7 linked regions of the Homo sapiens genome follow. The protein of the gene in region 6 interacts with the protein of the main gene of each other region in a biochemical or structural test. Each region holds a gene or a part of one and is shown on either strand. Other genes may lie near its edges. The genes, in order: GRID2IP, PDZRN4, MAST1, CTNND1, APBA2, RPS6KA3 and MAGI3.

The links.
Region 1: the proteins of RPS6KA3 (region 6) and GRID2IP interact in a test that uses a peptide from one of them, tested with the Homo sapiens proteins (one large-scale study listed by IntAct).
Region 2: the proteins of RPS6KA3 (region 6) and PDZRN4 interact in a test that uses a peptide from one of them, tested with the Homo sapiens proteins (one large-scale study listed by IntAct).
Region 3: the proteins of RPS6KA3 (region 6) and MAST1 interact in a test that uses a peptide from one of them, tested with the Homo sapiens proteins (one large-scale study listed by IntAct).
Region 4: of the proteins of RPS6KA3 (region 6) and CTNND1, one has a biochemical effect on the other in vitro, tested with the Homo sapiens proteins (one study listed by BioGRID).
Region 5: the proteins of RPS6KA3 (region 6) and APBA2 interact in a test that uses a peptide from one of them, tested with the Homo sapiens proteins (one large-scale study listed by IntAct).
Region 7: the proteins of RPS6KA3 (region 6) and MAGI3 interact in a test that uses a peptide from one of them, tested with the Homo sapiens proteins (one large-scale study listed by IntAct).

The regions. Positions count from the first base shown.
Region 1 is NC_000007.14:6,506,390-6,510,445, reverse strand, and holds part of GRID2IP (delphilin), read left to right. Parts: intron 1-45; coding exon 46-163; intron 164-293; exon of another isoform or gene 294-430; intron 431-1,132; coding exon 1,133-1,488; exon of another isoform or gene 1,489-1,540; intron 1,541-2,044; coding exon 2,045-2,461; intron 2,462-4,056.
Region 2 is NC_000012.12:41,506,155-41,510,210, forward strand, and holds part of PDZRN4 (PDZ domain-containing RING finger protein 4), read left to right. Parts: intron 1-301; coding exon 302-558; intron 559-3,656; coding exon 3,657-3,759; intron 3,760-4,056.
Region 3 is NC_000019.10:12,862,035-12,866,090, forward strand, and holds part of MAST1 (microtubule-associated serine/threonine-protein kinase 1), read left to right. Parts: intron 1-2,774; coding exon 2,775-2,913; intron 2,914-3,011; coding exon 3,012-3,144; intron 3,145-3,281; coding exon 3,282-3,447; intron 3,448-3,682; coding exon 3,683-3,784; intron 3,785-3,945; coding exon 3,946-4,056. UniProt on the Homo sapiens protein: Microtubule-associated protein essential for correct brain development. Appears to link the dystrophin/utrophin network with microtubule filaments via the syntrophins. Phosphorylation of DMD or UTRN may modulate their affinities for associated proteins.
Region 4 is NC_000011.10:57,792,352-57,796,407, reverse strand, and holds part of CTNND1 (catenin delta-1), read right to left. Parts: intron 2,399-4,056; coding exon 2,327-2,398; intron 832-2,326; coding exon 679-831; intron 1-678. UniProt on the Homo sapiens protein: Key regulator of cell-cell adhesion that associates with and regulates the cell adhesion properties of both C-, E- and N-cadherins, being critical for their surface stability.
Region 5 is NC_000015.10:29,049,700-29,053,755, reverse strand, and holds part of APBA2 (amyloid-beta A4 precursor protein-binding family A member 2), read right to left. Parts: intron 1-4,056. UniProt on the Homo sapiens protein: Putative function in synaptic vesicle exocytosis by binding to STXBP1, an essential component of the synaptic vesicle exocytotic machinery. May modulate processing of the amyloid-beta precursor protein (APP) and hence formation of APP-beta.
Region 6 is NC_000023.11:20,176,410-20,180,465, reverse strand, and holds part of RPS6KA3 (ribosomal protein S6 kinase alpha-3), read left to right. Parts: intron 1-3,381; coding exon 3,382-3,470; intron 3,471-3,949; coding exon of another isoform or gene 3,950-3,967; coding exon 3,968-4,032; intron 4,033-4,056. UniProt on the Homo sapiens protein: Serine/threonine-protein kinase that acts downstream of ERK (MAPK1/ERK2 and MAPK3/ERK1) signaling and mediates mitogenic and stress-induced activation of the transcription factors CREB1, ETV1/ER81 and NR4A1/NUR77, regulates translation through RPS6 and EIF4B phosphorylation, and mediates cellular proliferation, survival, and differentiation by modulating mTOR signaling and repressing pro-apoptotic function of BAD and DAPK1.
Region 7 is NC_000001.11:113,396,944-113,400,999, forward strand, and holds part of MAGI3 (membrane-associated guanylate kinase, WW and PDZ domain-containing protein 3), read left to right. Parts: intron 1-4,056.

The sequences.
Region 1 (4,056 bases), on a different chromosome or scaffold from region 6:
CGAGGGGAAGCAGAATGGGCTGGACTCTCCCCCGTCTCCCTCCAGATGTCAGCCGTCTATGCAGAGCTTGAGTCTCGACTGAACAGCAGCTTCAAAGGGAAGATGGGGACCGTGTCCAAATCCCGGGCTTCCCCTCCAGGCCCCAGCCCAGCAGTCACCACAGGTAGGGCTCCAGCCTCTGTCATCTACTGTCTGGGTGTTTCCCTCCACCCCAGGCTCAGCCCTGGAGCTGCTTCTCTGCTCCATCAGGGTCAGGGTTGTCCCAGTCCCTCCCATGGCCCTGTGACCCTCACCTCAGCTGTGGATCAAGAAAGTAGCCTGGGTACCGTGGGTCGTGCCTGTAATCCCAGCACTTTGGGAGGCCGAGGCAGGAGGATCAATGGAGCCCAGGAGTTTGAGACCAGCCTGGCAACATAGTGAGGCCCCATCTCTAACAAAAAAAATACAAAATTAGCTGGGCATGGTTGCATATGCCTGTAGTCCCAACTCCTCAAGAGGCTGAGGCGGGAGGATCACTTGAGCCCAGGAGTTCAAGGCTGCAGTGAGCTATTTCGAACCACTGCACTCTAGCCTATAAGCAACAGAGTAAGACCCTGTCTTAAAAAAGAAAAAGAAAGAAGGCAGATGCCTGATTCTGAGGAAGTCCCCGAGTTAGCAAGTGGTTATTGGATAAATGATCAAGTGCAACGCGTTGTACCAGCGTTGGCACAGCTGGGAAGACAGTTGCTCTGCAGCTCAGAAGGCAGGAGCCCTGGGAGGCCCTCCTGTGATCTCAGGGCTTGCTGGGTGCGCGAGACGCTCCATGACTGTGGCTCTGGGCCCTAGAGAAACCCCTCCACCCTTTGAGTTAATGGTGTTCAGTGGCTCCCAGCTGGGACCCCTGGTGACCATTCCAAGGTGAGCTGGCGTCCAGCCTGTCCTGAGGCCGAGCAGTGCTCCTGCTCACCAGATCTGGCCTTTAGTCATGCTTGGAAGGCAGGGCCGCTCAAGGTCTTCCTGCACTGTGCCCAGAGAGGGAAAGGAGAGTGGCCTGGGACACAGAGCCAGTCTGTCCTAGGACCCTCTCTCCAGCTTGCACCTGGAACCTCGGTGCTGGCTGAAGAGGAATCCTCATACTCCATCCCTCCTCCAGGGCCCAGGACCCTGTCCGGCGTCTCATGGCCCAGCGAGCGACTCTTGCCCTCCCCCTGCTACCACCCGCTGTGTTCGGGGGGTCTGGCCTCCCCCAGCAGCTCTGAGTCCCACCCCTACGCCAGCCTGGACAGCAGCAGGGCACCCTCCCCACAGCCAGGCCCCGGGCCCATCTGCCCCGACAGCCCCCCAAGCCCGGACCCCACCCGCCCGCCCAGCCGCAGGAAGCTCTTCACCTTCTCCCACCCTGTGCGAAGCCGCGATACTGACCGCTTCCTGGACGTGCTGAGCGAGCAGCTGGGCCCCCGGGTCACCATCGTGGATGATTTCCTGACCCCGGAGAACGACTACGAGGAGGTGGGCACGCAAGCAGGTGTGGAGGGAGGCGGGTGAGGCGAGGTGTGGCGGTCTGCAAGGCAACAGTGTTCCTGGGCTCCCGCAAGGGGCCTGCTGCCCTTGGGATCTTCCCCAGGCTATCCCACTCCCTAGCTCAAGCTATCCCACCCCTTGCCCCAGGTTACCCTATCTCCTGTTCAAGGTTATCATGCTCCTTGACTGAGGCTAGCCCATATTCCCTGTCGCAGGTTAGCCCATTCCTTAGCTCAGGCTATCCCACTCACAGCCTGAGGCTAACCCGTGACAGGGTCCTGTCCTTATTCCAGGCTATCCCCCTCACAGCCTGAGGCTTACCCATGAGAGGGTCCTATCCTTAGCCCAGGCTATCCCCCTCACAGCCTGAGGTTAACCTGTGAGACAGTCCTATCCTTAGCCCAGGTGTCCCTCACAGCCTGAGGCTAACCCGTGAGATGGCCCTGTCCTTGTCCCAGGCTATCCCATGATCCTTCACTTTGCACCTGCTCTAGTCTCTCTGGGCCCAGCCTCACCCTCCCCTTGCCTCTCTCCCCACCACCAGATGAGCTTCCATGATGACCAGGGCAGCTTCGTAACCAATGAGCGGAGCAGCGCCAGCGACTGCATCAGCAGCAGTGAAGAAGGCAGCTCCCTGACCTACTCCTCCATCTCTGACCACATCCCCCCACCCCCGCTCAGCCCCCCACCACCGCCACCCCTGCCTTTCCATGACGCTAAGCCCAGCTCCCGCAGCTCTGATGGTTCCCGGGGCCCTGCTCAGGCGCTGGCCAAGCCCCTCACCCAACTCAGCCACCCAGTCCCTCCACCACCCCCACCGCCCCTGCCCCCACCCGTGCCCTGTGCACCCCCCATGCTGTCCCGGGGCCTGGGCCACCGGCGCAGTGAGACCAGCCACATGAGCGTCAAGCGCTTGCGGTGGGAACAGGTGGAGAACTCAGAAGGCACCATCTGGGGTCAGGTAGGTGACCTGGGACCCAGCAGCGCTCTGTACTGGGGGAGGATGGCTTGGGCAGCAGCACTGAAGGAAAACCCATCGGCCAGGCATCTTCCAACATCATCCTCCCTACCCCAAGCAGAGGATGAGTAGAGGCCCAGCCCAAGAACGTCCCCACGCTTGGGGGCCACTGCAGGCATTGAAGCCAATCTGTGTCCCTCAGCCAAAGACACACACTGGGGACACCTGGAAATGCCACCCTACCCATCCTTGAAACCTATCACTTTTGAGGCCAGACAAGTTCTCTTAAACCTTTAAAAGAGCAGCTGGTTCAAACTCCTGCACACCAGCCTTCACCCTTTCACTTTGATGCTTGAAGTTCCTCCCTCACAACACTGGCAGTGTATGCTTGAACACCTTCAGTGGTGGGGAACTCACTACCTGTCAAGGTCTTCCTTTCCTCACTGGACGATTTTAACCATCCTTTGTCTTGCTCTGAAATCTTGTCTCCCCAGGATTCCCATGCCCTGTTTTCTTTCTGGCCCTTAAAATCGGGCAGAGCAATCTTATCCACAGACCAACCAATCTGCAAGATGAACAAGGTTCACCCCACCCCTTTTTTTTTTTTTCAGATCATTCTCTTAGAACATGGTTTCCAACCCCCACTCCAGTGTCCATGTCCCTGTCAAAGAGACATTCCCAGATGGAACCCCCAATGGGGCTTGACCAGCTCAGAGGAGAGAACAGGGTTCTCAGCTCCTTTGACTGGGACATCATACTCCTTTTAATATGGCAGGGGCTCCTTCCAGCTCCCAGGGCTGCCCCGTCCCAGTGCTCATGATCACCATCATCCTCAACTCCATCTTCTTGGGATCAATAGCTCACTCTCACATGTAGTCACACTGGGCAGAGGCATGCTTGTGATTTTTCCCCACTGCCATCTCCTGGGTCCCAATTCTGTCTCCTGCTTTCTCAGCCCACATCTCCAGGGACCCTTTCCAAGTTGCTAATAAAGATGCCCATTGAGGCCAGGCTTGGTGGTTCACGCCTGTAATCCCAGCACTTTGGGAGGCTGAGGCGGGAGGACTGCTTGAGCCTAAGAGTTCAAGACAAGTCTGGGCAACATAGTGAGATCTTGTCTCTACAAAAAAATCAAAAAGTTAGCCAGACCTGGTGGTGCATGCCTGTGGTCCCAGCTACTCGGGAGGCTGAAGAGGGAGAATCACTTGATTCCCACAGGTGGAGGTTGCAGTGAGCCAAGATGGCACCACTGCACTCCAGCCTGGGGTACAGAGTGAGACCCTATCTAAAAAAAAAAAAAAAAAAATACCTCAGTGAGACAAGGGCACAAATAAGGACCTCCTGGGTCCCCTGGAGACCTCACTCCTGCCAGCCTTGGACCGATCTTCAAGTATTGCTCCACAGCGTGGTTCTTCCATTGGTTACCAAAGGTGGACACAGGGACACAGGTCACACATGTGGCCAAACCCAAATCCATCCTCAGTGTCCCTGCCCTGCAGCCATGTTCTAAGACTTCATTCCCCTGCCTGCCCTCCCTTTGGGTTCTCTCCCTTTGGCAGCCACCCCGTCCGCACTCCCTGCCCCAGCCCCAGGCTGTT
Region 2 (4,056 bases), on a different chromosome or scaffold from region 6:
TGACCCTTTTCTGAAGCAGATGTGTTACTTAAATTTTTAAATCTTTGCTAATAGTTCTGCTGTTTTACTAGTTAACCAACTCCAGATACTTTATAAAGATACAGAAGTAATTGTTGTTGTAATCTCAGGTACTTCATCATGTTGGTAAAGACTTCAGTAAATATTAATATCTGATTAAATATTCCATTACAAAATTCATATCAGGGCTGGTTGAAACCTTTCTCTCTGTCTTTTATTAATCTATCATGACAGCCTCTCTGATCTTTCCTCTGAGATGAACAATGTCCTTATATGTTTGTAGGTCAATGGGAAGGATCTTTCAAAGGCCACTCATGAAGAGGCAGTGGAAGCTTTTCGCAATGCCAAGGAGCCCATTGTGGTGCAGGTGTTAAGGCGAACACCTCTTAGTAGACCAGCCTATGGGATGGCTTCAGAAGTGCAGCTTATGAATGCCAGCACTCAGACGGACATCACCTTCGAACACATCATGGCTCTGGCCAAGCTTCGTCCACCTACCCCTCCAGTGCCAGACATCTGTCCATTCCTGCTCTCAGACAGGTATTTTTCTATCATTTCTTCCAAAGCCCTGTTTGTTTCCATTTGTCACGTAAAGCAGATGTTGAAAAGAAGCAGTTCCACTAGCAGGTTGACAGTTATGGAGACAGGCTTCCCAGCTCCGTTTGGAAAATGTCTCCCCTGTTTTGATATGTGCAATTAGTTCTCAGTGGTCCCTGCTAGCTACTCTCCCTGACCCACATGGTTGCTCCACCTGGGTAATCATACTTGCTAGCTGCTGTGAAAAATTCTGGCTCTGATTAGTTCATCTTCATATTACTAGCTGTCAAAAGCCTCATGCTACTCATGAACACTGGTCAGGGAAATCACTTTTCTCACCAAAGCTGCCAAAAACCTTATTAAGACTCATGTGGAAGTGGCATCTTGGCACCACATTCTCCTCTGTGGGCCACCTCTCTCTCTTCCTTGCATTTCTCTTCTTTAAAGAGAAGCTAGGAAATTGATTTAATTAAAGTGCAATTCTCTGACGAAAGCACTTACCCAATATATTGAGATATAAACAAAGGATCTTGGCTGTCAGAGAGTAAGTATAGTGCTATCAAATAAAGATCTATTCAAGGAATACTTCCTCCTGATTTTTGCCTAATTTAAAGGAAGTCAGAGAGATTTTATTCAAATAATCCTACTTGAACAGTTTTAAAAGTATGCTTGCCCAATTCATTGTGTTCTGTGAGCTTTCGAGCAAATATTCAAACATTGAGAGTTTGTAAGAGCAATAGTCTCCTTAGCCTGCATTTTCATCACCTACTCCAATCCGCTCTCTACTTCATAAAACAAAGATCTGAGTCATGCCACTTTCCTGCCCTTTGATGGCTGGCTCCCATAAGCCCGTTTCAGTGGGTCACAGATGTACAATAGAATCACCTGGGAACTTTCAGAAGCTGTATCAGTACCTGAATCACTCCTTAGGCCAATTAAATGAGAATTCTTAGAGTAAGGCTTAGGCATCAGAAATTTTCAAAAGTCTCCCTAGGCAATCCTAATGTGCAGCCAAGTTTTGAAAACACTTCTTGAGACTTCGAGTTCCAGGAAGGCAGGGGATCTGTTTGTCTTGGGTATCTCTTTATTTTAAATAGCCCTTTGTATCAGACACAAATTGGATGTGTCAGGGCTTGCAACTAGATGCTTGGCATAAAACTATGAACAAAAATAAAGTCACTGCCTTCTAGAGTTTATATTCTACAAGGGGAGTTGAACAAAAAGCAAGGAAACAAATATATAATATTCATTAATACAGCCTAAAACATAGTAGCCATCCAACAAATACTTCCTTGAATGAATAATAATAGCTAGCTTGTATTAGCTAACTTAACATGCTTTCAGTATTATTCCAAACGTTTTGCATTTATTGACTCATTTAGTTCTCACAATAATCTTAGGAGGGAGTACATTATATTATCAACATTCTATGTCTAAGATGAGGGAACAGATATTAAGTAACATGGCCAAGATCACATAGCAAAAAAGTGACAGGGCCAGGCTTCTAGGCCTAAGAGGTCTGACCCCAATGCCTACCCCCTTAGCCAGTGCATCTTGCTGCTCTTCCTAGGTCCTGCAGACCTTAGCTTAGAGACAACCTCCTCTAGAAAACTTCCTAGGGCTGCAGTGGGTCCACCCCTACCATGTGCTCCCAAGGCTCCTGTATTTTTCCCTTAATTATTGCACTGTATTAAAATTCCCACTTTGCTGCTTTCCCCAATTAATAGGGCAGAATTGGATTTTGTAAACCAACATATTTCCAGCACTTGGCCTTGCATCTGGCAGCCACTAAATAAACGTCGAATGAATAAAGTGTTCCTCACAGCAGGGCTCCCTTCTTACTATCCGAAAGACAAGGGAAACACATCAGATGTCCAAAGCAGCAGGCTTCGATATTCCAAGAGCCCAAAAGGGCTATGCGGACCCAGTCCAGCTATAAGCAAGGAGATTTATCTGGTAGACACAAGGCAAGGTGCTGCCTGTATTACTTTTACCATTTTGGCCTACACTAGTTAGACCTGTGTGGAGCTGACAGCCATAGATAGTAGTGAGGAGAGGCTGGTAGAATATTTACGCTGACTATAGTATGAGGGCATGAGGATGGGTCTCTTGCCTTTCAACAAGGGAGAAGGGAACTAATTGATACTGCTATCTCCAATTTTTCAAAAAGATCCACACTGGCAGGAGTTAGAGGTCTCATCTGCAACCAACTTGTCAATTGTATTTAGGCTTTTTCAGTGTCTTTTAGAAATAGAAAAGGCCTTATGCTCTTTGCTGTTAAACTATGCTTAGTCTTCATATGGTATGATGTGTAGTCTTTATATCAGAACATACTAAATCGAATAACATGTTTACAAACTATTTAAAAATTTCCTAAAAGTTGAAATACATAAAAGCCATATCCTCTCATTTCCTTAATGTAATCTGCTCTCTCTGTCACTGAGAATTTTCTAAAGGTATTTTGAAACCTTGTGGCTTATAGGAGTTTCCACTGATTGATCGCCATGAATGTTCTTTAATATTTGTGTATATGTCCTTGATCAAAGAGGGGAAAATGTGCATTATGAGGGAGAGTGAGAAAGGGGGATCTTAAGAAAGAGAGGAGGGGACAATGTGAGCACATTTTAGAGTCTGAAAAAATAAGTGCTTTTGAAAATGGTTTTCAAAAAATAGTTTGCAGCTGTGGATTATGAAATTGGTAGTACTTTATGACAAAATACCCCTCTTTGAGTAGACTGCAATCTCAAATGCCACACACCCACGTATGGAGCTTGTCACATTCAGTGGAATGGAAGCAGGCCAGAAAGTATCAATAAAGCACCACGGACTGTCAGAGATTTCACATCAGTCTTTCCACAGAATACAACTCTGACCATAGGCCCTTATTCCTAGCATTCTCTCAGAAATTGCAAATTGATGGACTTCACGTAGAGGGAGAAAGAAAAGCTATTGCTTTTCCTCAGCTGTAGTTTGTTTAAAGACTAGATCACTACAGATCTTATTCCAAAGCAGAGCAAACTAAAGTGAAATTCTAAAATCAGTTTTAATCTGGAAAACAACCCATTTAATCTATTCCTATCATATTGCTACATTCCCCATAGCTGCCATTCTCTACATCCAATGGAGCATGAATTTTATGAGGACAATGAGTATATTTCCAGCTTGCCTGCTGATGCAGACAGAACAGAAGACTTTGAATATGAGGTAAGGTCATTTTCATACCACTTCACATTTCTTCATGAAGTTACGGTTGAGGGGTTTTGTATAACAAAGAAATTAATTTATTACAGTGAGAAATGTCTTGTCTATTACATATCCAGTGTAAGATCTTTCAAATACTATTTGCTTTAGCTATGTGGCTCTCGTGTTTTAAGTATATTGGAAAATATTTTTATAGTATAAGCTTAAATATAATTTGCTCTCATTTTGTTGCTTTTTAATAAATAATATTGCAACAGCTACATTTTTAAAATCTGTTCTATAATATATGTGGATTTCCAA
Region 3 (4,056 bases), on a different chromosome or scaffold from region 6:
CACGCTGTCACCCAGGCTAGAGTGCAATGGGGTGATCTCGGATTACTGCAGCCTCCGTCTCCAAGGTTCAAGTGATTCTCCTGCCTCAGTCTCCCGAGTAGCTAGGATTACAGGCGTGTGCCACCACATCTGGCAAATTTTTGTACTTTTAGTAGAGACGGATTTTCACCATGTTGGCCAGGCTGGTCTCGAATTCCTAGCCTTAAATGATCCATCAGTCTCGGCCTCCCGAAGTATGGGGATTACAGGCGTGAATCACTGCGCCCAGCCTTGTTTTGTTTTATTTTTAGTGCATTGTCCAGGCTGGAGTGCAGTGGTGTGATCACAGCTTACTGCAGCCTTGAACTCCTGGGCTCAAGCAATCCTCCCACCTCAGCCTCCAAAAGTAGCTGAAACTACAGGCAGGCACCACCATGTCCAGCTAATGGAGGGTTTTAAGAAGATTTGATATGATCAGATTTATGTTTTAAGAAAATCCATTTGGAGGCCCATTATAGTAGCTTACGACTGTAATCCCAGCACTTACAGTGGGAGACCAAGGCAGGCAGAACACTTGTGGTCAAGAGTCCAAGATCAACCTACCCAGCATGGTGAAACCCTGTTGTTGTTGTTTTTTTCTTTTCCTTTTTTTTTTTTTTTTTGAGACAGAGTTTCGCTCTGGCTAAACTCGTTGCCCAGGCTAGAGTGCAATGACGTGATCTTGGCTCACCGCAACCTCCTCCTCCCGGGTTCAAGCGATTCTCCTGCCTCAGCTTCTTGAGTAGCTGGAATTATAGGTATGCACCACCACACCTGGCTATTTTTGTATTTTTAGTAGAGATGGGGTTTCTCCATGTCAGCCAGGCTGGTCTCGAACTCCCAACCTCAGGTGATGTGCCTGCCTCGGCTTCCCAAAGTGTTGGGATTACAGGCGTGAGCCACTGTGCCCGGCCAATGAAACCCTGTTTCTACTAAAATTACAAAAATTAGCCAGGAGTGGCGGTGCACGCCTATCATCCCAGCTACTCGGGAGGCTGAGGAACAAGAATCTCTTGAACCCGGGGGCGGTGAGTGGGCAGAGGTTGCAGTGAGCCGAGATGGAGCCACTGCACTCTAGCCTGGGTGACAGAGCCAGACTCTGACTCAAAAAAAAAAAAAAAAAAAAAAAGAGAAAAAGAAAAAAATTAAGAAAAGATAATCCATTTGGCTCTTGTGGAGAGAGCAGAATCAGGAGACTAGGAGGTAGATGACTGCTCTAGTCCAGGTTCATTGCAGAGGAGGAGGAGAGAAGGGGGCCAAATCAGTATCTCTATGGTGGGTCTGTGTGCACAATAGATGTGCTCAAATGCAGATTCCTGGGCCCCACCCTCAGAGAGTTTCTGAAACCAGCAAAATCTCGCAGAAAAGAGAACAGAAAAAAGAAAGAAATCATTAGCTTTCTTGGTCATTGGTGATTGAAAAACCAATATTACCTTCAGGAATGGCTGGATGTAGGTGCTCAAACCATTCCATCAGGAAACTCTCCATCTCTTGGCTCTGTACTCCCACATGTGGGCTTCCTTCTAGACAAGCCCTCATGTAGCAAGGTTGCCATCTAGCAGATCTCAGCTTACATTCTATGAGCTTAGCAATTCTTACAGGAAAAGAGTGAAAATTCCAAGGGCTAACTCACTGGAGCAACTTGGGTTACATACTGCCCCGGTTGCTGCACATGGAAGGAAATCTAGCCTTTGTAGGATAAAAAGGAAATAGATATTGAGAAACTGAAATACCAATGCCAATTACAGTAAATCTGGCAGAGGGGCAGAGGCAGTGGCCAACACTTTGGGAAGCTGAGGCAGGAGGATCCTTTGAACCCAAGAGTTGGAGACCAGCTTGGGCAACACAATGAAACTCGTTTCTACAAAAAACTTTTTTTTTTTTTTTTTTGAGACGGAGTCTTGCTCTGTCACCCAGGCTGGACTGCAGTGGTGCGATCTTGGATCTCTGCAACCTCTGCCTCCCAGGTTCAAGCCATTCTTCTGCCTTAGCCTCCCGAGTAGCTGGGATTACAGCCGTCTGCCAACAAGCCAGGCTAACTTTAGTATTCTTTTTTCAGAGATGGGGTTTCACCATGTTGACCAGGCTGGTCTCGAACTCCTGACCTCAAGTGATCCACCCGCCTTGGCTTCCCAAAGTGCTGGGATTTCAGGCGTGAGCTACCATGCCCAGCCTTGAACAATTTTTTAAAAATCAGCTGGGCATGGTGGCTCACATCTGTAGTCCCAGCTACTCAGGAGGCTGAAGCAGGAGGATTGCTTGAGCTGGGAGGTTGAGGATGCAGTGAGCTGTGATCTTGCCACCGCACTCTAGACTGGGCAATGGAGTAAGACCCTGTCTCAAAAAAAAAAAAAAAAAATCTAGTGAAGACCAAGAATCTGCATCTAAGGCTTCCAGCTCCAAGGTTCAGACACCAGGAGATAGAGGGCTGTGCTTCCAGATGCAGTTGATAAGTGGGTAGCCTTTGTTCCCCAACTAAACCTCACCTCTACCAACAACTGCCTGCATGACCCATCCTTTCTTTGAGTCTCCATCCCTTTGTGTATAAGATGAGCTGATGACACCAACTTTGGAGGATGGCTAAGAGGACAAGAAGAACCCAGTAGAGGACCTGGAGGGAGGGAGGCCCCTCTCAGAGCCTCAGTTTCCCTTATCTATAAAACGGGTACAACATAACATGAGAAGTTGGTGCTATGGTGCATGTCCAGAGAGAGGAATGCCTCCCTTTTTATGCGGGCCCATTTCCTGGCCTGCAGGCGGCGACTGTGCCACCCTGCTGAAGAATATTGGAGCGCTGCCCGTAGAGATGGCCCGCATGTACTTTGCTGAGACGGTGCTAGCCCTGGAGTATTTGCACAACTATGGCATCGTGCACCGCGACCTCAAGCCTGACAAGTGAGCTTTGATCTTTCCCATCACTCCCTCTGTCCCTCGGGAGGCCAGGAGGCAGAATGGACGGGCCTCATCCCTGAGATCCCCACCTGTGCCTACAGCCTCCTTATCACCTCCATGGGTCACATCAAGCTCACAGATTTCGGCCTCTCCAAGATGGGGCTCATGAGCCTCACCACCAACTTATATGAAGGCCACATCGAGAAGGACGCCCGAGAGTTCCTGGACAAACAGGTGTGTGTGCGGGCATGGGGGTCGCTGAGGGTGGAGTGACCCTGCAGGACCTCGGGAACCCAGGGCCTGGTGGGGGGCACAGCTCTCCCTTGAGGGCCCTCCTCTGGCTGGGGCGTGGGCTGACAGCCTGCCCCCAGGTGTGTGGGACCCCAGAGTACATCGCGCCCGAGGTCATCCTGCGTCAAGGCTACGGCAAGCCAGTGGACTGGTGGGCTATGGGGATCATCCTCTACGAGTTCCTGGTGGGCTGTGTGCCCTTCTTCGGAGACACACCAGAGGAGCTATTTGGACAGGTCATCAGTGGTACGTGGCTTGGCAGTGTACAGGGGCAGAGTGTGGTGTGCACGGAGAGATGGACAGGCTCAGGGTTCCAGGGATTTCAAAAGCGACCCCCCAGAGGATCGCTTGCACTCAGGAGGTCAAGGCTGCAGTGAGCCATGATCGTGCCACTGCACTCCAGCTGGGTGACACAGTGAGATCCTGTGTCCAAACAACAACAACAACAAAAACCGCCCCTAAGTTCCGTTTTGTTTTGCAGATGACATCCTGTGGCCCGAGGGGGATGAGGCCCTACCTACGGAGGCCCAACTCCTCATATCCAGCCTCCTGCAGACCAACCCTCTGGTCAGGCTTGGGGCAGGTAAGTCCGCCATGCAGAGGAGCTGAGGGCCCACTGATAGAGAGCAGGCCTCCAAAACCCCAGGCCCAGCCTGTGCTGTGGCCCCGGGGCGGAAGACATGGGGGGCGGGGCTGGGCTGCTGGGTTGGCCATCAGCTGTGGCTGGAATCCCTTCCGTCCCAGGCGGCGCTTTTGAGGTGAAGCAGCACAGTTTCTTTCGAGACCTGGACTGGACAGGGCTGCTGAGGCAGAAGGCCGAGTTCATCCCCCACCTAGAGTCGGAAGATGACACTA
Region 4 (4,056 bases), on a different chromosome or scaffold from region 6:
TTAAATTCTTTTTTTTTTTTTGAGATGGAGTCTTGCACTGTTGCCCTGGCTGGAGTGCAATGGCGTGATCTCGGCTCACCTGCAACCTCTGCCTCCCAGGTTCACGCAATTCTCCTGCCTCAGCCTCCCGAGTAGCTGGTATTACAGGCACACACCACCACACCTGGCTAATTTTTTGTATTTTTAGTAGAGACGGGGTTTCACTATGTTGCCCAGACTGGTCTCAAACTCCTGACCTCGTGATCCGCCCACCTCAGCCTCCCACAGGGCTGGGATTACAAGCGTGACCCACCGCGCCCAGCCATGAACAATTAAATTCTATACCACTCCAAAAGAAACAAATCTTTATATCCCTAGGTCACTTTACCTAGGAATGCCTTAAAGCCTACCATCTATCTTTCTTTCCATCCTATAGGAAGTCCCCAAGCAGGAAAATTGCCCTGACAGTAACTATGCTTATAAGGGAAGCTACTATAGACCCTGATATACCTTCTGTCTTCCCTATCCCATAAGATTTTCCCATCTCTTCATCCTTTCTATCTGGCCAGAGATCACTTCATGCAATCAGATCAATAATGGCATATCAGTCCTCCATCTTAATTAAGTGCTTAACCCCTCCCCTAATAGAGAAGAAAAGACCTCTTATCACTTCCAGATCTTACACACGTCTTAGTTTACCGTGGTCTCTGTGCGCCGAGTGGTCCCATCATCTGAGGTCTCCACAGAGACTACAGACATGGCTCCCTCAGGATCCTCCTCCGTGTAGGTCTCCACAATCTGCCCCGGCTCCTGCATCCTGGGGATGGTGCTATATAGAAGGTGACTGTGATCCTATATGCAAAAGAGAAAAGAGAAGAAACTACTATTAAGTGCTATGTATAACAAGCCATCCTAATAAGAAGCATAAGTGGTAAACCTGGAGACAGGGACTCCTCATGCATCTTCTATAGGCCTCAGGATTTTTAGATGGGTGGCTGTCATCTTTTGAACTTGTACAAAAGGACAGTAGACATAATTTCCCAGTTGTAGTCATTTAACAAACATGAACTAACTATAGCCACATCAACATCCAAGTGACAGACAGTAGATTTAACTTCCCAGCTGTGGTCATCTAAGTGAACATGAACTGTGTTAAATGCAGTTTCATCTATATCTGAGTGATCCCTCAAAAGAGCAGCTCACCCAATAAATAAATAACTTGTATTTATTTACTTGAGATAGGGTCTCACTCTATCACCCAAGCTAGAGTGCAGTGGCATGATCATAGCTCACTGGAGCCCCAACCTCCCAGGCTCAAGCAATCTTGCCATTTCAGCCTCCTGAGTAGCTAGAACTACAGGCTCACGCCACCATGCCTGGCTAATTTTATTTTTTTTGTAGAGACAGGGTCTATGTTGCCCAGGCTGGTCTTGAACTCCTGGGCTCAAGCAATCCTCCAGCCTCAGCCTCCCAAAGTGCTGGAATTACAGGAATGAGCAAACCACGCCTGGCCAAAATAAAGAACTTTGTTTTTTTTTTTTTTTTGAGACGGAGTTTTGCTCTGCCTTGGCCTCCCAAAGTGTTGGATTACAGGCATGAGACACCGTGCCCAGTCTAAAATAAAGAACTTTTTTTTTTTTTTTGAGACAGAGTTTTGCTCTTGTTGCCCAGGCTGGAGTACAATGGCATGATCTCAGCTCACCACAATCTCCGCCACCTGGTTTCAAGCAATTCTCCTGCCTCAGCCTCCCGAGTAGCTGGGATTACAGGCATGTGCCACCACGCCTGACTAATTTTGTATTTTCAGTAGAGACGGGGTTTCTCCATGTTGGTCAGGCTGGTCTCCAACTCCCGACCTGAGGTGATCTGCCCACCTCAGCCTCCCAAAGTGCTGGGATTACAGGCATGAGCCACCATGCCTGGCCAAAAATAAAGAACTTTTAAGACAAACCTGAAAATCCCAGTAAGAGCCATCTTTTGACTGGCTTTATGTTACTCTTCAGATACCGTCTAAAAGGCTCAAGACCAGCCAGATTTTAGGTAGGGTTTTTTGCTGCAAAGTAGAAGCCTACTGTCTCTAGAAAAGAAACGCAGTACTTAGGGATCAAATGGGGTGGCAGTGGGGAGGAGGAATAGTCATAAAGATCAATGGTCATTAAAATTCATTCCAAAACAAAACTGCATATATACTTTGGAGCTCCACTTCTTTGTTTTCGTAAATAAAAGAAACTAATTGACGAGTATGTACAATGTGCCAGGCACCTTACAAGACACAAATATGCTCTTATAGGCTGGGGAAATAAGAAAATATGAATGAAGCAACCCAGGTCTTGAGCCAAAGAATTACCTGGGGTCCGTTGAGTTTCAAATCTGAAAATTTCTGTCTTTCAAGGTCAGCATCGCCCACAAACCGGCCGTTCTGAAACACAGCCCACAAGAAGACAATTCATTTTGTGGCCTTCTTTTGCTCTATCAAATACAAACGATCTTTTTTTCAAACAGGAAAAGGGCTTTCAAGAAGATATGTGTGGCCTGGAGTCCTTGTGTCAGTACTCATAAAAGAACCATTCACTCTTTAGTCTTAGCACTTTCCTCAAAATTGAAAATCAGGCCTGGAACTCTGGCAGACAGGGTCTCTGGAACATAAGAACGTAAACTCCACGAGGGCAGAGGGTTTTTTGGGATAAGTTTAGTTTAGTCTAGTGCCTTGAACAGTGCCTGGCACATAACAGGTGCTCAAAAACTATTTGCTGAATAAACAGCACAGACCTAGATAATTTCCCTTACATGCAACCTTTTTGGAAAGCCATAAAAATGTAAGGAAAGTTGGAAGGGCTAAGTTGGGGGGTTTCCAAAGAGCTTTATAGTCTCATGAATCTTCATGCAGTACTACCACTGGAAACTCCCATTCCAGGCAGCTTTTTAAAGAAAGAAGCAAGATGGCTATCATGTCCTAATGTAAAAAACAGAAATTTAATTAAAGAAAAAAGCAAGAGATACGAGTCTCCCTTTCCAAGTACAAAAACAAGCACCCCAACTCCCCTCAAGAAAACAGAAGGCTCAATATCTTTACCAACAATTATTAGAGCCACAGAATACATTCCAAAATGTCATCCAGAAGTTGCTCTGTCTTAAGCAGCAGGAAATAATCTAATGACATTATACCACATAAAAATATATTTGCCTGCTCCTCTTCCAGTAGAATAGTGAGATCCAACCACCTTGGGAGACTCTTCCTCCACCCCACTCCCATTACATAGAGTGTAATGCTGCAGGGAGAGGAAGTTAAACATTACTTTCAGGAAGAAGGAAGGGTGTGGTTTTACTGCTAAGCAGAAGTTAAAAATAAGAGAGCAACCACATACTGAATCCTGGAATTCCCCATGACCTCCAAACCTGAGCAGTCCAGCTTTCTCCTTTCAATATAATTTCATCCCTAACTTTCTATTGTAGTTCCTGTAAAAATCCTAGGAACACTGCAAGCATGCTGCCTCCCTCAAATTCCTTGATCCTCCAACTGGAATTCTGTTCTCTCTCAACTGCAAGGCTCCTCAGTATGAGGGACTTTCTCTATCTTAAAAAAAAAAAAAAAAAAATCACTCAGCCGGGTGCAGTAGCTCACGCGTAATCCCAGTACTTTGGGAGGCCGAGGCAGGTGGATCACGAGGTCAAGAGATCGAGACCATCCTGGCCAACATGGTGAAACCCCATTTCTACTAAAACTACAAAAATTGGCTGGGTGTGGTGGCACACGCCTGTAGTCCCAGCTACTCAGGAGGCTGAGGCAGGAGAATTGCTTGAACCCGGGAGGCGAACGTTGCAGTGAGCCAAGATTGCACCACTGCACTCCTATTTAAATAAATAAATAAAAATTACTCAATGAAAAGGACTATCAGGGCATGAGTACTGTTCTGGTTCCCACTCAGAGATCTCTCGTAAGATGCAATCTATCAGGCAATGTCTACCACACACACACATGCGCGAGTGCGCGCGCACACACGCACACACACACAGAGGAAGACAGACAAAACCTCAGACAGATTACATCACAGCAAAGTCAGACTAGAAAAACCAGAG
Region 5 (4,056 bases), on a different chromosome or scaffold from region 6:
CGTCCTCCCGCAGCCATGTGAGGGCACATCTGTTCAAACAGTGCGCCATCCCCACCCCCGCTAACTCATCATCAGAACAACACGCATCCACACCAAGGAGAACGAGGGCACACAGAGCTCCGGGAAAAGCAGTCAAGGGAGGCACCGGCAACTCACGAGGACACACGCCTCTCCCCAGGAACCTACCGGCTCATTCCTGACTTCTCACTCAGTTTGGGTAGCCCAGGTGACCAAGACAAATGGTCAGAAGATCAGGTTGTTTGCTCTCACGAAGAAAATGAGCAGCTTTCATTAAGAAGACATAATGAGGACCAATGAGGAGGGACAATAACTCTTCCCAATCTAAATCCATGACCCCTCAAAGACTATCTTGGGTACCTTCCCCTTCAGGCTTATCCCATCCTCTCCCTCCTCTTCCCCCTCAAACTGAACAATGTTCACCGAGGAACTGGATGCGCAGGGACCATCCAGGCTGAGCAATGTGCAGAAAAGCTCTACACAAGTCCCCAGCGTGGCAGGCTGGAGGGCTCAGCAGAGGGGACAGCACTGCTCGGCCATGGGGAGAAGAGGACAAAGGGTGCAGCCGCAGCCTGCAGGTATCGTGGGGTGACAGGGCAGCTGCAGAGACCTGGCAGGCCAAACTGGGAGAGGGCCTGGACCCAGTGCCCAGGACTCTGCACTTTATCCCCCAAACCACACGGCTATGGCCTTAATATGTCCCCCAAAGTTCATGCGTTGGAGACTTAATCCCTAATGCAACAGTGTTGAGAGGTGGGACCTTTGAAAGGTGATTAGGTCATGAGGGCTGTGCTCTCATGAATGGATTAATGTCTTTATCTTGGGAGGAAGTTCTTTATTGTGAGAGTGGGTTTGTTATAAAAGTGAGTTTGGCTCTCTCTTGCTCTCTTTCTCATTCTCCCTCACCTTCTCACCTCTGCCTTGGGATGACATAGCAAGAAGGCCCTTACCAGATGCTGGCACCTTGACCTTGGACTTCCCAGCCTCCAGAACTGTGAGAAACAAATCTCCATTCTTTATAATCAACCAGTCTTAGGTATTCTGTTATAGCAACAGAAAACAGACTAAGACATGTGCACAGTCACTGAGCCATTTTCAACATTTTTTCTTTTAGCCCTGTCTCTCTGGGCCTGGCGTGGGGACAGAGGCTAGAGGCTAGAGGCAGGGAGACCAGTGAAAAGGCTATTCTCTCTTCTGGGGGAAAGCAAGGGGCTAGCATCAGGAAAGTGGCACAGAGGACGTCCAAAAGTTTGCTTAACGTTCTACTTCTTTTTTTTTTTTTTGAGATGGAGTCTCGCTCTGTCGCCCAGGATGGAGTGCAGTGGCACCATCTCAGCTCACTGCAAGTTCCACCTCCTGGGTTCACACCATTCTCCTGCCTCAGCCTCCCGAGTAGCTGGGACTACAGGTGTCCCCCACCATGCCGAGCTAATTTTTCGTATTTTTAGTAGAGACGGGGTTTCACCGTGTTAGCTAGGATGGTCACGATCTCCTGACCTCGTGATCCGCCCACCTCGGCCTCTAAAAGTGCTGGGATTACAGGGGTGAGCCGCCACGCCCAGCAACGTTCTACTTCTTCAGCTAATTGCTTCCCCAAATGTTTGTCATATTCTTTAAACTGTACTCTTACATTACACATGCCTTTTTGCTTGCATGATAGTTCAATTATTTAAAAAAACATATTCCAGTAGTCCAGTTAAGAGCTTGCACACTTGAAAATGCTTAAAATGCTAAATTTTTTATGTCTATTTTACTGCAATTTTTAAAAAGAAAAAAAAGGAGAGCTTAAACTAAAACAGTAGAGAGGACAGTGGAGAAGTGGCTCAGTGAGGACCTTAGGTGGCAGAAGCAAAGGGATCTGGGCTCAGATGGGAGCAGGAAGTGAAGATGAAAGAGGAGCTATCAGTGACCCTCAGCAGTCACTGCCCGGGCTCTCATCTTGCCTTCCTGTACCTCCTCTTCCCCTCTTGTCTCTTTAGTTTAGGCCACAAACTCAAGGCCTTCCATATTGTGTATCCCCCCAGAGCTCCAAACACAGCACCTTGTTTGTAGTGGTGCCCAAAACACATCTTGTTATGAGACTGAGTGTACCAGATGGTCACGGTTACAGCAGTATGAATATTCCCAAAAGAACGAAGAAGGAGATAATTATTTCATCCAGTCCAGACACTCAGAGTGTGGGCACAATTACTGATGGAGCCACATGCTTCCAACGTGTGAATTCACTCCAAGGACACTTGACATCTAAAGAAGCAATGTTTACTCCGCCACCTGCACAGGCTTGTCCATGGCCGTGTTTCAGGAGCATCACTGGTATGCGGAGCAATTCACAGCACTCCCCCTAGAGTGGCCCACAGACAGCAAAGATGTCCCACACCAGGAAAATTGTCACTGAGATGGACCCTGCAGGGCCCGTCACCCCATTCGCAAACCCTGAAACTGGCAGGACAATTCGAAAGAGCTGTTCCCTAGAAGAGAACAAGGGGCCAGCACTCACTAAGACATCTGCAACCCAGATGTGTCAGAGGACACATCAAGAACACTGAGCTGCCTCAAAGACCACATATAACTTGTCACCAGATTTCTTATCTTCACAGAGGACAGCCAGCCACAAGAGAGAGGCTGCAGGAGTGATGTCAGGGACTTAGCAACCACAACTCTCAGACACAATCTCCAGTAACTACATTCCTCAAAACGGTCTCTCAGAAGCATGTGCTGAATGCAGCTGCTAACATGCAACCAGACGTCCATGTCTTGACGTCAGGACGGCAAAGGGCAGATGGTACATCACTGGCACATGAGCACACAGCTCCCATTCCTTGCATAGCGGTGCCATCTCTACAGCATCCCTGTTTCTCGCCAGGCTCTGACATCAAGCTGTGCACGTTGAAGGTATGCACATCCTTGTTAAGAGAACAAACTAAAGTACACAGTACTCTTGCTATCTTAACTTCAAAATCTCTGTCATTCGGGGGGATAAAATCTGTAATATGCACATATAAATATGTATACCAACACTAAATAAAATATTCTCTAGGCCAATATAGGACATAAGGACTAAAATACACATTACAGTAACATGGAACAGTCCAGATCCTATTAAAATGTTATTCAAGTTTTCAAAAATGAAAACACTGAGGACATTGTAGGAGAACTACAATAGAACCAGGAGTTTATTTTCCACTGGTGTTTCCTATTAGCTCTCCAAGCCTTCAGATGATTTCAGAAAAATTTATTCCAGATGTATAACACTACGACAACAATATAATTTGGACTATAATTACTCAATTCATAACTTACCACTGCTTCCTATACTTTTTGCATTTCTTTCTCTTGAACTATTTAGTGGGATTTCATTTTTATTTTGTAAAAATAATTGTTAGAGTCATTTTGTTTACTTAGGAGGTAACTCTTTTGTATCTATAAAATGGCTCTGATCTCACATAGAATGATACCTTTGCTAGGTATAAGATTATTGTATTGCATCCTTTTCACAATAATTTGCTAACACTGTTCCACTATCTTCTAGCTTACAGTCTCGCAGATGTGCATTTTAATACTATTCAGATTCTTTTTACCTTGGTACAAAAATCTATTCCTTCCGTCTGGAAGCTGATACAATTTCCTCTCCACTCTTAGAGTTCAGAAATTCCAGCAAACTATGTCTAGATAAGGGTCTTTTTTAATTTTATGAGGGTCTCATTAATTTTATGTGAGATTCATTTGGTGAGCCCTTTCCGAATCAAGTCCCACATCTTACTTTAGTTACAGGAAGATTCTTGCTATTTCTTTTTTATTTCTCTCCCTAATGGCCTTTTTCTCTTTCTGGAATATCTCTGGAATTTGCCCTCCAAATCACTGAACTTTACACTCATAGCACCCATTTCACATTTTTTTCTGTGTGGTATAAATTAGTTCCTCCATTTGACCTTCCAAAACACTAACTCACTTTTCAGCAAGATATAGCATGTGACCTGTCTTTGCTCTTGCTGGCAACAAAGGGCCCCTGAGACACCAGTGCATGTCTTTCAGCGACTG
Region 6 (4,056 bases):
CTGGTGGTTCTCTTGTTACCATGGTTACATAACAATTAGTCTTTTCCTAGGAGTATGGAAATTTTTTTTTATTCCCTTAGTGTTATTAGCTTGATCCTCTATTCTGTTTTTGGTTAAACTGTTTTAGCAAGATTATTTCACAGCTAATACCGTGTGGTCCCTATTACATCAGGAGGCTTACAATACCTGGTTGCCCCCACTTTAAGTGATGGGCTCCAGTGGTTGCAGCTGATTCCTCCGTTGTAAAGTTCCCTGGCATGCTTTTAACTAATGGTTCTATCCATTAATAATCATTACTTGAAACAGTTATTTTATAAGGAATTCAAAAGTGATGAATTGCTTTTCTTTTAAAAAAAAAAAAAAAAGTTTAAATTTTGGAGATGAGGTCTTGCTCTGTTGCCCAGACTCGAATGCAGTGGCATGATTACAGCTCACTGCAACATCAAACTCCTGGGCTCAAACGATCCTCCTGCCTCAGCATCTGGAGTAGCTAGGACTACAGGTGCACCACCATGCCCAGCCAAGTTCTTTAATCTTTTGTACAGATGGTATCTTGCTATGTTGCCAGGCAGGTCTCAAACTCCTGGGCTCAAGTGATCCTCCCACCTCCGCCTCCCAAAGTGTTGGGATTACAGGCATGAGCCACTATGCACCAGCCATGATTTTCTATTATTATTATTATTCCTTCCTCATTTATTAGCTGGTATTTTCTCAACAAACTTTCCCTCATCAACTATGATGATTTAATTACTTGAAATAACGCTCATCCAAGAAAAAGAGAATAAATACTTAATTCTTTTCTTAAATTGTTTCTAATGTCAGAGCCCTAGTTACTTCCTAGTGGGGGTAGTATCCAGTGAGTCGAGTTTTTGTATTTTGACTTTGCTTTTTCTTACTTTACATAATAAACTCATGGGATTTAATAATCAGTGTGATTCAGCCAATTGCAGTCATTATTTTTAATGCCCTAATTGTTCTTTTTCTGACTACCTTTTAAATGGTCTTATCCCCCAGGATCCGTCTATGATATGCTTTTCTTCCCCCTCTGCACTCTTTCCTGACTGACTTCAGTCTTTCCTATAACTACCCTCCACATTTTAATTACTCTCAAATCACTCTTTCTTACATGAATTTACCAGGCATTAGACCTGTGTTTCTATTTACTCACCTGCCTGGCCCTCCCAAAACATATTACATGCATGACTTCACATCTTTGAACTAAATGTATCTTTATTTGCTGTTCTTTTCTTATACTCCCAGTTATCAGCATTTTCATGCACCCTCTTCCAAGCCAGAAACCAGGAAATCATTTTTTATTCCTTCTCTCTTTTGCATAATTAGGTATTCTCCAAATTCGATCTCAGAATTATTTCACTGTTCCAGCCTTTCCTCTGAATTAAACTGCTTAAAGTATTCAGAAAACAGTGACCTCTTACCCATACTATCTGACCACATTCCTAAGTTGATTGCCTACCACTTATGACCTCTTCCCACTCCAAATTGTTCTCTATTACCCTTGGAGTTACCTTCTTGAAAATAAGTCTAGTCATGTTAGTCCAGTTTCAGGACCTCTGCTGCATCCTTGTTACCTAATACAATAGTGTTTCCCCAGATTTGTCCAAGAGAATATTAATTCTACAAGATATTAATAGGTATTCTTTGAAAAAGAGGTGCTGGAAATAAATACTTAGAAAATACTGATTTCACCCATAATCCCAGCACTTTGAGAGGCTGAAGTGGGAGGATCACTTGAGGCTAGGAGTTCAAAACCAGCCTAGTCAACATGGCAAAACTCCATCTCTACAAAAAAAAAAAAAAAAAAAAAAAAAGCCAGGTGTGGTAGCACACACCTGTAATCCCAACTACTTGGGAGGCTGAGACACGAGAATCCCTTGAACCCAGAAGGCAGAGATTGCAGTGAGCCGAGATTGTGCCACTGCAGTCCAGCCTGGATACTCTGTCTTAAAAAAAAAAAAAAAAAAAACTGATTTGTTTGCTCTAGATTTCTCAGCCTTTTTATATGCAGTGTATTTTAATTCTGTGTGTCTAATAGGGGGATATAATAAATAGCATTCTACAAGCTCATTGGGTCATGAATTTTTTTATTGTTGCTAACTATCTAGAGGGATTAATGTTATTCAGTAAAATTTGGGGAAACACTAGCCAAATGAATAAATTGTTAGCCTTTAGATTGCATTGAAGACCTTTCATAATCTCCCATGTTAAATTAAATATCCCCTACTGTTCCCTTGTCACTCTTTGCATATGTTCTTCTGCATTTGTCTCTTAATGTACTAGCATTATCTGTATCCATCTTCACCATGGACCATGAGTTTCATGGGCTCTCTTTATCTCTGTATCCTCAGCACTAAACAGTGTCTGGCATGTAATAGCTCAATAACAACCCACTGAATAATAAATGGATCTGTTTCTGAAATAGGAATTTTCCCCAGCTCTATTATTATTGTCATACTTACAGGATCATTGGTTTCTTTAATTTGTAGGTTTGGAAAAAGAATTAAAATTAGAGCTGAAACAGACCTTCAAGTTCATCTAGGCCAGCAGTTTTTAGACTGTGTATCTTCAATATTTCACAATCCTCTTTCCCACAGTTCCCCTTCCCTTCAGGGGCTGTTAAAGGGAATAGAAAGGAAAAAGTGGCATATGAAACACATGTTCTCTTAGCAGCTTTAAATGTTAGGTTTCTTAAATTCCCTTTGAGGAGGAGTTCCGAGGCTATACTTTGGGAGCTATTGGTCTAGAGACCAATCCCTTTGCTTATGAAGAAATGATAACAGGCCCAGAATAATTGGCTTTCCCACTGTCACAAAGTTCTTAGTAACAGAGCCAGAACTAGGATTCAAATGATCTTACTTTCACAGTGCTCTTTGCAAAATTTTGAAAAATGAAAAAGCTTATTAGATTATGAACTAAAATTCAGTTATGTGTTCACATGAAAACCTGTACATAAATGTTCACTGTAGCTTTATTCATATTAGCCCCAAACTGGGCACAACCCAAATGTCCTTCAACAGATAATGGATAAATAAACTGTGACATATTCATACAGAAGCCATACATGTAATAAAATGGCATAGAACTAAACACACACACAAATAAGTGCAAATAAAACCAGTGCCATGTGAATGAGATCATTGGATTGTCTCCATGTCAATATCCTGGATGTGATATTGTACTGTAGTTTTGTAAGATGTTACCATTGGGGGAAACTGGGTAAAGGGCACAGGGGATCTCTCTGTATTATTTCTTACAACTGAGTGTGAATCTACAAGTATCTCAAAAAGTTTAATTTAAGAATTTTTAAAAATAAAAATACAGATGCCTCCAAAAAATAAAATATTATGTGGATTTATTATTTAGAGCCAAACTTGGAATGCCACAGTTTTTGAGTCCTGAAGCGCAGAGTCTTTTACGAATGCTTTTCAAGCGAAATCCTGCAAACAGATTAGGTAAAAATTTTAACTAATTTGTTTATGTTGTATGTTTGTTGGTGTTTGTTTTTAGCGGGGAGTAGATATTTGTTTTGTGGTGGAATTATTAACTATTTAGACAAGGCTAGGCCTGGTGGCTCACGCCTGTAATCCCAGCACTTTGGGAGACCAAGGCGGGAGAATTACTTGAGTCCAGGAGTTCAAGACCAGCCTGGGAAAAATGGCAAAACCTCATCTTTACAAAAAATACAAAAATTAGCCAGGCATGGTGGTGCGTGCCTGTAGTCCCAGCTACTCAGGAAGTTGAGGTAGGAGGATCACTTGAGCCTGAGAGGTTGAGGCTGCAGTGAACTGAGATCACACCACTGCGCTCCAGCCTGGGTGACAGAGCAAGCCCTTGTCTCAAAATTAATTAATTAATTAATTAATTAATTAGACAAGTATTGAAAACAAAGGCTGAGCAATATGTATATTTCTCCTTGAAATAAAATTATCAGTGAATCCATTTTTGATAGGTGCAGGACCAGATGGAGTTGAAGAAATTAAAAGACATTCATTTTTCTCAACGATAGACTGGAATGTAAGTATAGAATGAAAACTTGCT
Region 7 (4,056 bases), on a different chromosome or scaffold from region 6:
GTGCTATTCGAAAAAGTAGTGGAGCTGCATTTTAGAAAGGATTTGGGTTCTCAAGTCATCACAAAAAGAGGGAAATCAAATATAAGCAAAACTGTCTTTTCAAAAAGCCCTTAAATTGTGCATAAAATACTATATTGTACTGTTTGTAGGATGAGTCCAAATGCCACTTTTCCACCCATGTTGGAACCAATTGCAGTTTTTTGGTCGAATACCAGAAGAAGTAATTTGCTTGCATTAAAAAGATATGTTTTACAAAAAAACTTTTAATTCTAAGAAATTATCCTCATCTAGGTATGTACAGTGAATTTATGGAAATTAAATGTGTACATGAAGTGAAAGAATGATTTCTTTTCTTTTTTTCTTTTTAATATCTTGGTAGGATCCACGCCATCTGCCCTTGTTTTCTGACTTGAGTGGTTGAGGAATGAATTGTGAATAATTTTGAACTTGTTTGGGTTTTGAAAGATGACAGATTTTGGTTGAGTGGAATTAGGATCTTTCCAGTAGTAGGTAAGAAGCAGAGGAGGAGAAAAACACAGGGCAAAAACGTTCCATACAGAAAGGTTTACAGTGTGGTCCATCTCAATAATTTTGTGTGTGTTTGTGTACAAGGGCACAAAATCCACATTATAGAATAATTGGAAATTATTTTGTACAAGGGCACAAAATCCACATTATAGAATAATTGGAAAATAGAGGGAAGATCATATTAATTGTTTAAATGTATAGGTAGTTCCATTATGAATAGTCTCCTGTAAGTTTTTTTTAAATGTGTTATCTCCTCGAAATAATGCTCTAAGGTGCTTAATGCTATTTCTGCCTTCAGCCTCATTCCACTCATAATGTTATACTATGAATATTTTTATTTAACCCTTAATGTACCATTAGTTCTGTTCTTTATGGTTAATAGCCCTATTTTTGTTGTTTTGGAAGTCTAGCCAGTTTTATGGGAAAACACAATTTGCTAGCCTAGGAAAAAGGGAATTGAAAAATATATTTTCATCTTAATCCCGCCTTCCCTTTTGTTACAGCCACAGCCGACTGGCTTCCAGTGAGAAGGGTGGCATCATTATATCTCCATTCTTCCCTGAACCCTAGCAATTTATCCTGATGCAGCCACTCAGCTGCATTGCAGTGGTTTCCAGGAGCAACCCACTTACCTGCAGCCCCCACCCATTTCAGTCATCCCAACATGGCCAGGGGAACATAGATTACATTTTGAGGACCATAATTTGACTTATGACATATCTAAATACCTGAGAAAGGACACGCTGTCCTTATAGGTGATTAGGTACTTGTTTTATTAACACATACTGAGAGATATTGTTTTAGAGACTCTGTATGGGTTATGAAGGGTTAAACTTTTTTGCCATAATTTGTTTGGAGTTTAGGGTTTGGTTTTAAAAAATATCATGCAGTGGTAATTGGAAAAAATTTTGTTTCAAATTTATTAATAATTAAGATCTTTTCTATTTGGAGGCTTCCCTTTTTATTGTCTTGGGTATACAATGTGAACGGTAACCGATCTACTTAATTAAAACTTTCTGGCATTTTAGCCTCTTTGCTTTTGCTGGTTTTTTTGCACATAATTTGAAACACGTAATTATTATTTTCTGGCTTCAGGGGAGTTTGTGAGAGGCAAGCCTGTATCTCGTTGTTCTGATTGGGAATTACACATGACTATGAAAAATGGGATTTTACTATACATAATGGCATTTAACAGAAGTAGTTTTATGAAAGGAAAATATCCTACAAGGTAGGAAAAAAACAAGTATTTATTAATGCTTCATTTTCTGAACTTAAATAGAATTAAGCTAAATTGGCTTTGCTTTTTCCTCCAATAAAATAACTTTTAAAAATTCACTTTAATGGAGTAGTTCCAGAGATATATTACTCTTTGGATATGGTTATCTAGTTTGCAGCAAGTATCTTGTGATATATAGCTTAGATCTCAGCAGGAAAGAAAAAAATCTTAATTTACATATCAGTTTCTGTATTTGTAAGAATTCTGTAGCAAGTGACAGAAACGCTGTTGAGATTAATGTAGGCTAAGAAGAAATTTATTGACTTACATACATTAAAATCCAGGCATAGATCAGTAACAGCTAACTTCTGTTCTCAAGTGTTGGTCATTAGAATTATTATTTGGTTCTCTTTTCTTCTGGGTTGGATTTTTTCTCAGCTAGACTGTCAGTGTAGCGGTGAAGGTAGCTCTGAACCCCGAAGTCATACAGGGTCCTTAAAGCTTCTCATCTTTTTGGAGTCTAATAACAAATCTCATGCAGGGACTTTGGCCCTGTGCCCATCTCTTGGACCAATTATTGTAGAGAGAGGAGAGGACAATGAAGTGCCATGATTGGTCAGGCGTGGGGACATGTCTACCCTTGCAGCTGGGTATAAATAGCATAATATGATTAATAACTGTAGCAGAACCCCAAGACGTAAGGGAGGGGGAGTTCCTGAAAGGGTGGGATGCCGAGGAATCAATACTACAGGAAATGATCTCTTTTAAAACATTTAATCTCTCTTACTTGGAGGCCAGAAGTAGTACACAGTTGTCATAAAACTATCATTTTTAGAAAAACAGATATTGGCTGTAAACCAAAACTGATTTGATTTCTAGGCACTGCTTTTACTCAAATATTTAAATAAAAAATTGCTTTTATTTAAAAGTTATTTCTTTAAAAAATTGAAATACTGATACCTTAATGTGCACAATTTAAAAGTATTTCTTGTAATTTTTATTTAATTTTCTTTAAAAAAATTAAATAAGATTCTCTAAAATCAATGCTGTTGATTTTTAGGGAGATGGAATACTTTGGAAGATTAACAGTCTTTGGCATTGAGAAAAATATTATTAGCCTAGTTAAACAATTACGTTTTTAAAACAATTTTATTCTACCATTTTGAAAATGAAATTCTAAACGAATTACTTTCCAAGGTGTTTTGCTTTTAAAACAATGGTCTTTTTAAACACAAATTGAGACAATGTCATTATTGTAGTATTTCTGAGGGCTCCCTAATAATACTTTTTAACCATGATTTCGTGGAAATTATGTGAAAGGAACTACTTCACTGACTCTTATATAAAATGGGTATATAAGAGTTTTGAAACATTACTTAAGTATGGTGTCATGTGGTAACTGTTTAATTACCAAAAATGTTATTTGGCAGATATTGCAGGATAAAATCTGATCCCCTTTTTAAAGTTTTTTATAGCCTCCACTGGGAGAACAGAGGTACTCAGAGCAGGGGTAGACAGTTGAAAGAGAGGGGTGGGTGCTCCAAATAACATTTCATACTATTTTTATATTCTATTACTGTATCAATGTCTTCAGCTTTGGTGCCATAAAAATAATAATTTTAGTAATAACTTTGAGTTTATATATGCCATGCACAGTAGGAGTTTTGTAGTTTTGCCAAGTGTCATCTGGTAGTTGGATCTTTAGTGAATATTAAATGTTGGTAGATTATTGGTGAATGCACTTACTGTACATAAAAATGAACATTCATGGAATTGGGTGTGATTTGCCAGTAAGAATCATCATAGCAAGTACTTTGTATTGTTAGATTAGTTTGGGCACCCTTCGGATGACTTTAGACCATATTTGGAAAATTACTGCTTCTACTTCAAAAGCCTGTAATAATTAGAGTTCTCCAATATTAATTCCATATATTGATTAATTAAGCCATGAAATCTAGTAAAATGATATAGTCTTTATTACCTCTGTTCACAGAATTGTATCTCAATCCAACTTGGTAGCTTTCAGCAGAACACTTTGTCAAAATATTATTAATTTTAGCTAAGAATTCTATTCACTAATTTCAGTGTTTAAGTTAGAATGCACATGCTAGTGAAAATTTTAATTTCCTTTGAATAGAATTAGATTTGCTAACTAGAGCAATCTCACAATGTAATGCTGATGACTGAAATGACACTTCAGCCTCCCTTGGGTGACAACCCTAAGTTTAGACAACCTTACTCTAATAGGAATATTGAGGACTTATCACAACATATTAGCTGTCATTTAGAGTAATAACTTCCATGTCAGGGCA